2 linked regions of the Homo sapiens genome follow. The protein of the gene in region 1 interacts with the protein of each later gene in a biochemical or structural test. Each region holds a gene or a part of one and is shown on either strand. Other genes may lie near its edges.

Region 1 (3,500 bases):
ATGTTATCTCCGATTCATAGCTGATAGTACCAGGCACTTTGTCATGGTGGCGGCTCATAACAAATTGATGCTTAAATTGATTGCTTACATCTGTTGCTCTAGTTGGTGAGTCTGACTGAGATGTGATTACATCCACAGATTCAGGTTGTGCAACTTCCTCCAGACCTGCAGAGGGTGCCTTCTGTACCTGTTCTAGAGTTTCGTCTGGACCAGGTCCATATTGTATTATTTTACCATCCAAATCATTTGGGCGGGCAGCAGAGACCCTCTGAAATCCTTCTGTGGGAAAAGCACAGTTTTTGGTTGGCGTGTTTTCTGGAATAGGCTCAGTCTCTGTACGCACTTGGTCTTTTGTGACATTTGAATCTAGAAGACTGCTACCAGCTGATGTTATGGTTTCTGGATCGCAGCGATTCTTCACATCAAAAGTAGAGTTTTTTTCTAAATGTAGTTTATCTGGTCCCATCTCAACTGCAGAAGAGTCTAAAAAGGACAGTATGGTGTCTTCAGTGGAGTATTGACGAGATACTGATTTATTTGCTGTATGCGGCCTAATCTTACTTGGAGACAAGGCAGCCGTTGTGAGTGTGCTTTCCTCTAAATAAGGGAGATCTGTATTGTTTTCTTCTTTTTGCTTAACTTCTTCAGACTTGTTGATGGACCTAAGGTTAACAGATTTCAGGATCGTTGGTGTAATTGCAAGGGACGGTGGAGGATTCGACCTCAGTGTTTCTCCTACTGTGTTCTGCTTATTATGAGTAAAAACATGCAGTGGATGACGGTGGTGGAATGGTTTGTTCAAGACATTATGAAGAGCACTTAGATCAAGATGGGTAGGAGGTATAATTGGAAGTTCAAGGTCTTTACTCAGTGATATAGTTCCATCTTTTAAAGAGGGTTGCTGTAGTGAGGATTTTCTTTCTGGGACTTTAGGTTTTCTTTTGCTACCTCCGGGAGACAATGGACCTGAAAAGAAAGCTGTAGGGAAAGAGGATGTTGGCGTTTCAGACTGGCTTGAATAGCCACTTGATGGAGATGCCAAGCCAGCCAGCTTTTCTGGTGAAGCCAGTTTAAACTCATTGTCAACAGAAGGAAGAGATGGGGTGGTGGCTCTTGATTCTGATTGTGATGTTTGGGATTCAGAGCTCTCTGGAGATTTGATGCATTCAATGACTGTGGTACCCGTAGCGGTGCTTGAATTAGATAGAGATCTATAAGGATCATTTGTTTTCAAGTCATTTAGGAGCCAGAGGTCTGCATAGTGTGTGGATTCGGCAACTTCATCTTTGAATGGTGGAATATCCGAAGCATCTAACTGAGGTTCCTTAATGCCTTGTTCACTCTGGTTTATCCAAGAAGGTTCCTGCTTGGTGGGAAGATTGGCGTTTTCCATTCGAGAAGGCGTGTTGGCGAAATCAAGAGGCAGCTTCATTTCCCTGGAACTGTGAGGCAGGTGCTGACCACTGCTTATCTTTGGTTCTTTCTTCTCAGAAATATCTGCGTTTCCATCAGACTTCCTCAATGATGAGCTACGTTTAGGTGGGGTCGGCTTTGCCTTTGGTTTCCTGAAAGAGATGCTTGGTCTTCCCTGCCTCTTGTGGTCTAAGTAGTCCTGCCAGGCACAATCTGGAAGACCAGGGGAAGCCCCTACACCCTGGCCATTCTCTGGGCCCAGGGCTGCATAGTGACAGACATAGCTCTTATTACCTTTGAGACCACAGTCAAAGTGCATGGAGGTATAGTATCCTTCCGTGTCTACTGAAAAGTGAGAGCTAGTGTCCGCTTTGTCTGATGGAGACTTTTCCAGAAAGCTGTCATAAGTGGCCATGCTTGTGAAGCTTGGGCAGCCCAGGCTGTCTGCCTTGGGACGCTCAGGACTAAAATCCTGGCGGCAGGAGGCATCATGGTGGTGGTGTAGGTAATTCCACTCACTGTCACTTGTGTTGCTGTTGTTGGGATCATCCAGCAGGTCTGCAACAGTGGAGGTAAAGGAGTTTGCCCGATGGCCTCTCACTTTATCCAAGTGGTCATTGTATTGCTCTGTCACGAAAACACTGGCATCCTCATTGGCATGAGGGGCTGTGTTTAGTGACAACTCCGAGTCACAGTGTGAAGAGCCAGTGAGTGGAGGAGAAGCTGCAGGAGGGATGGTTTCTGAGGTCTGCGAGGGGCACGTGGAGCTGCTCCCACTCCAGTTGCCACTGGATGACTGGTGGTCATCTTTCTGGTCCATGTGGCTGCTAAGGAGGACGCCAGCCGTGGAGATGCAGTGGATGGGGCTCCCAAACGTGTCTGAGTTGGAGGAGATGTCACAGCTGCCAGAGTCAGCAGCCATTCGGGACAGACGTGACCTTCCCCTCTCACTTAATTTGTGCTGGGGGCTGTGAAGATGTTGAGAGCAGGCCAGGCCCAAAGTAGGCTGGTGGTCCTGGGCACTCGGGCTGCTTGGAGCCTCACTGAAATCATTAGGGGTTCTTTCATGGTCACCCACAAAAGACTCTCCCTCTTCATATGCTGAGGGTTTAGCGCCAACTTTGGGCTCAGCATCCCCACCTCTATTACCTTCCCGGGGAAGGCTCCGAGATCTTGTGCGGCTGCTCACTGCAGGAGTAAACATGGTGTCACCTTTGTCTGCTAGGGCAGAAATGTTGCCAGCAGAATGAGAAAGGGAAGCTGCAATGCTTTGACCCCTTTGAGCTCTGATTCTCCTTCTGGATGGGGCAGCAATCAGAATATCCTCGGTTTGGCACTCAGAGTCCCTGGTTCCGGATATCCTATTGACAGTGTTGGAGGGGTCTGGGTTTGTGTGCACAATCACATTCCTTTCCCTGGCCACTGGTGATTCATCAGAATCTAGGGCACATGGAAAGCACAGTGAGATATTTTCTATATCAGCAGACCAACAGACATTCTGAGCTATGTCTGTAGATCTGTGGGCTGGCAGGTTAGAGCTGTTTTTTTTTTTCTTTAACAGAAAAAAAATCAATATATAGAATTAGGTGAGAGTTAAAATGCTTTAGGGTGTATATACACGTCCCCCTCATATATGTATATATACATACCAAGAGAAGATATGCTTTTATGTCTTTTGTGAATTATCCCTCTCTTCACTATCACGTTAATTTGCCACAATAAGTGACTACTTTTAAAAACTAAAGTACATTTTATCTTTTTGGCCACTACTCTTCATTTTTATTTTGTAATATAAACATGATGAAATAAAAATCATAGGTCTCATTATTAGAAATAAAAATCTTATTTGCAAGAGATGATACCCTAATAATTTTTTAAAAATCATAGGCAGAGATATTTTAAATCCACTAAACAGAAACATTGTCACCAAAGGTATCATATTATCAATATTCAATATTTCATTGCATATGCCTGGAATTTACCTTTTAAAATAATTAATGACATGAAAGTATATCTCTCTTAAATTAAGTTACAATTTTCCAAAAAGAAAACTTTCATTGACTCCTGCTACTTTTTATTCACAATTT
Region 2 (3,500 bases), on another chromosome or scaffold:
ACAAAAATTAAGCTCTTGTGGACAGTAATATATCGAAGGTATGTGTTCCATGTAGTCACTGCTGGTATGCTCTCCATATCATCAAAAAAGCACTCCTGAATAAAAGAATTATGGCTATTACAATAAGACAGTACAGTTTCATGCCACCATTGTGGTTTTATTTTTAATATATGAAAATAAAAGAATAGTATTACTTGAATCTAAGTGTATTTTAACAAATATAAATCATTATAAATGCCATGTATGATGTCATTCTATAGCCAGAATAATGTCTACTGGAGCAACACAGCTTTATTAAAAATGAGAAACATCGTAATTTTTCAAAATTCTAAAAATGTATCACTGATTATATAACTGTATTATTATTGGACAATTTTACCATTAAAGGCTTAACAGTGGCATACCTTTTATCAAATGAATGATACCATCTAAATGAAGTTTCCCAGAACTCTCTTTGATTTAACCTGTTTCTTCAGGGGTCCATGGACAAGTACAGTTCAGTATACTTCTAGCTATAAAGGTCTTCCAATAGACTGAAAGCTCATTTGTGTTTGAACATTTCTTAGTAACTTAGGACTTTCTCTCTTTCCAGCTGTGATTTAAATTACATAATTCTCATCCTAGGCATATTCCTCTAGAAATCTTTGTCTTTTGGCATAGAAATACATTTCAAAAATTTGAAAAAGAGAGATTCCAGACAGTCCAAAGGAAAAAGAGTTTTGTTTCTCACAAAATCAACAAAACTCATGGGAAAGTGCTATGAATCACAAAGAAGGGCTCCTATGGAATTGGGATATAGTGCACTGGTTAGGAGTATGCATTTTTTGAGTCAGACAGATCTGGATTTGAACCCAACCTCCACCATTAACATCCTAGGAGCTGCTTGAATTCAAGCATGTTGCCGAACTCTGAACTTTAGTTTCCTTATCTGCAAATGTGAAAAATTTTAAATACCTTCCAGGGTAGTTGTGGGGACTAAATATATGCCACCTAGCACTAGATGCAATCCATTAATAGAAACTATTATTAGTCAAGGATATCATTCTTTACAACTAAATTTTTAGGCTCAGGACTGAGAAATTCATTTAGATTGATATTAAACTATATAGATGGGCTGGGCGCAGTGGCTCAGGCTGGACGTGGTGGCACACGCCTGTAATACCAGCACTTTGGGAGGCTGAGGTGGGTGGATCACAAGGTCAGGAGTTCAAGACCAGCCTGGTCAACATGATGAAACCCCTTCTCTACTAAAAATACAAAAATTAGCTCGGCATGGTGGTGCATGCCTGTAATCTCAGCTACTCAGGAGGCTGAGGCAGGAGATTAGCTTGAACCCAGGAGGCAGAGGTTGCAGTGAGCCGAGGTTGCACCATTGCACTCCAGCCTAGGTGACAGAGCGAGACTCCATCTCAAACAAACAAACAAACAAACACACAAAAAAACACTATATAGATGAATTATCATTTAGGAAACCTTCATAAAGTTTAGAAATACTAAAATTACACACTTTAGGGATCTATTTTATTCCCTCATTTTACAAAGAAGGAAACTTCTGCCTACAGATGTTAATGGCTTGTGTCTTGTCAAAGGTCATATTATTCACAAATGATCTATACTATTAAACATATCAATTCATTACAACCCTGCCCATGGCTCATTTCATCCAAGGCATTAAGTTTTCTACTAAAACAACAAAAACTCTCCTTTTTATATTATTTCCTGTTTTAAAAATAAAATGCTTTTATTCTTAAAACCTAATAGAACAAAATTTCTGTCTGAAGATTGGCACTAGTACATGTTAAGCTTATATACATTCTCTAAAAGAAATCTTTTCAGAAACCCAATGTATAAAGCAAACTCACAAGATAAAAAAAAGCCCACACTAGCTAAATTCAGGCAAGACTGATATACAAACCAGAATGTGAGTTAGTCCTATCAAGAGGCTAAATGTTTATATACCTTATATATGCTACTTCCATACAGATTATTTTGCGAGCTATAAATAATGAAAGCTACTATTTATTTATACAGTTATTTATACTGCACCTCTTCCCACAGAGGGTTCAAGATGGTAATAAAGCAAATGCTTTCTAACTTATAGTCACAGTTATCACTGGCTTAGTAGAGGACCAAAAACTAAATCCTTTCCCATTTTATGGGAAGAGATATGTCCATTGCAAAAAGAAATCATTTGTTATTTTACATTTTAACGTTGCTTGTATAATTAATGAACTTCATACTTTCTGAGTTTTAAGATACACCTTATCCTAATCCTATGATTTTAGTAAATTTTGTTACATGCTACATATTGCATTCTACTCAATTGCATTCTGTGGGGTGAAATACCCCCAAGCGATGTATACCTACCTTTAAGTCTTCTTCGTTAATTTCTTCACTTATTTCCAAGCCAGTTTCTTGAGATAACCTTCTTGAATATATATCCAGTTCAGTCAAGTTTGCCTGAGGGGCCAGTGACACTTTTCGTGTGGATGCTGTTGTCTTTCGGTGAATGTTCTGACCTTGGTTAACTGAGTGTGTCATCAGGTTCAGGACAGACTGCCTCCTTCGTGCCTGAAGCGTGGGGCCAGTGCTGATCACGCTGATGCGAGGCAGTATCGCCTCTCCCTGCTCAGAATCTGGTACTAAGGACAGCCTTCTCTCTAAAGGCTCATCAGAATCCTCTTCGATGCCATTCATTTGTAAGGGAGTCTTTTGCACAATGGAAAATTTTCGTATAGAGTTGATTGGATTGAGAATAGAATTCTTCCTTTTTTCCCCAAACTCTCCAGTCTGTTTAAAAGATTGTTTTTTTGTTTCTGTCCAGGAGACAGGAGCATCTCCTTCTAATGAGAAACGGTGTAAGGTCTCAGTTAGGATTGAATTTCTTCTTTCTGCACTAAATTGGTCGAAAGAATCACATCCCATGAGTTTTGAGCTAAAGTCTGGCTGTAGATTTTGGAGTTCTGAAAATGTCCCATAAAAATAGCTGCTACCTTCATGCAAAATTAATATTTTGTCAGCTTTCTTTAAATGTTCCATTTTAGAAGTGACCAAAATCCTAGTTTTGTTAGCCATCAGTTTACAGACACAGCTTTAAGATATAAAAACATATAAATATCAATTTTATAAATACTTTATTGCAATATGTCTCGTATTTTAGCATTTTGTTAATGTTTTATTGCATATAATCTCTATCATACAATTTTATTATATTTTAAATGATTCTATAAGTACTCTGTAGTAATTAAATTGGTACCTTGTGAATTCTGATAGCATGAAATAACATGCTATATTGAAAAGTTGCATGTTAACAGACTGAGAATGAAATTAAATTTCCTATATTAAGTAGATATTTGACTTTGAGCAAATCATTTATCCTCGGGGTCTCTCAGTTTATTTATCTAGAAAATGAGGAAATTATTAGATGATCTTTAAGGTCCCTAGAGATTTGTACTTCATTTCTTTTAAATGTCAGAGCTTTGTTGCTCTTTAAATTTTCT

What was found.
Region 2: the proteins of NHS (region 1) and CFTR form a complex in vitro, tested with the Homo sapiens proteins (one study listed by BioGRID).

The regions. Positions count from the first base shown.
Region 1 is NC_000023.11:17,724,700-17,728,199, reverse strand, and holds part of NHS (actin remodeling regulator NHS), read right to left. Parts: intron 2,854-3,500; coding exon 1-2,853. UniProt on the Homo sapiens protein: May function in cell morphology by maintaining the integrity of the circumferential actin ring and controlling lamellipod formation. Involved in the regulation eye, tooth, brain and craniofacial development.
Region 2 is NC_000007.14:117,591,525-117,595,024, reverse strand, and holds part of CFTR (cystic fibrosis transmembrane conductance regulator), read right to left. Parts: intron 3,092-3,500; coding exon 2,368-3,091; intron 96-2,367; coding exon 1-95. UniProt on the Homo sapiens protein: Epithelial ion channel that plays an important role in the regulation of epithelial ion and water transport and fluid homeostasis. Mediates the transport of chloride ions across the cell membrane.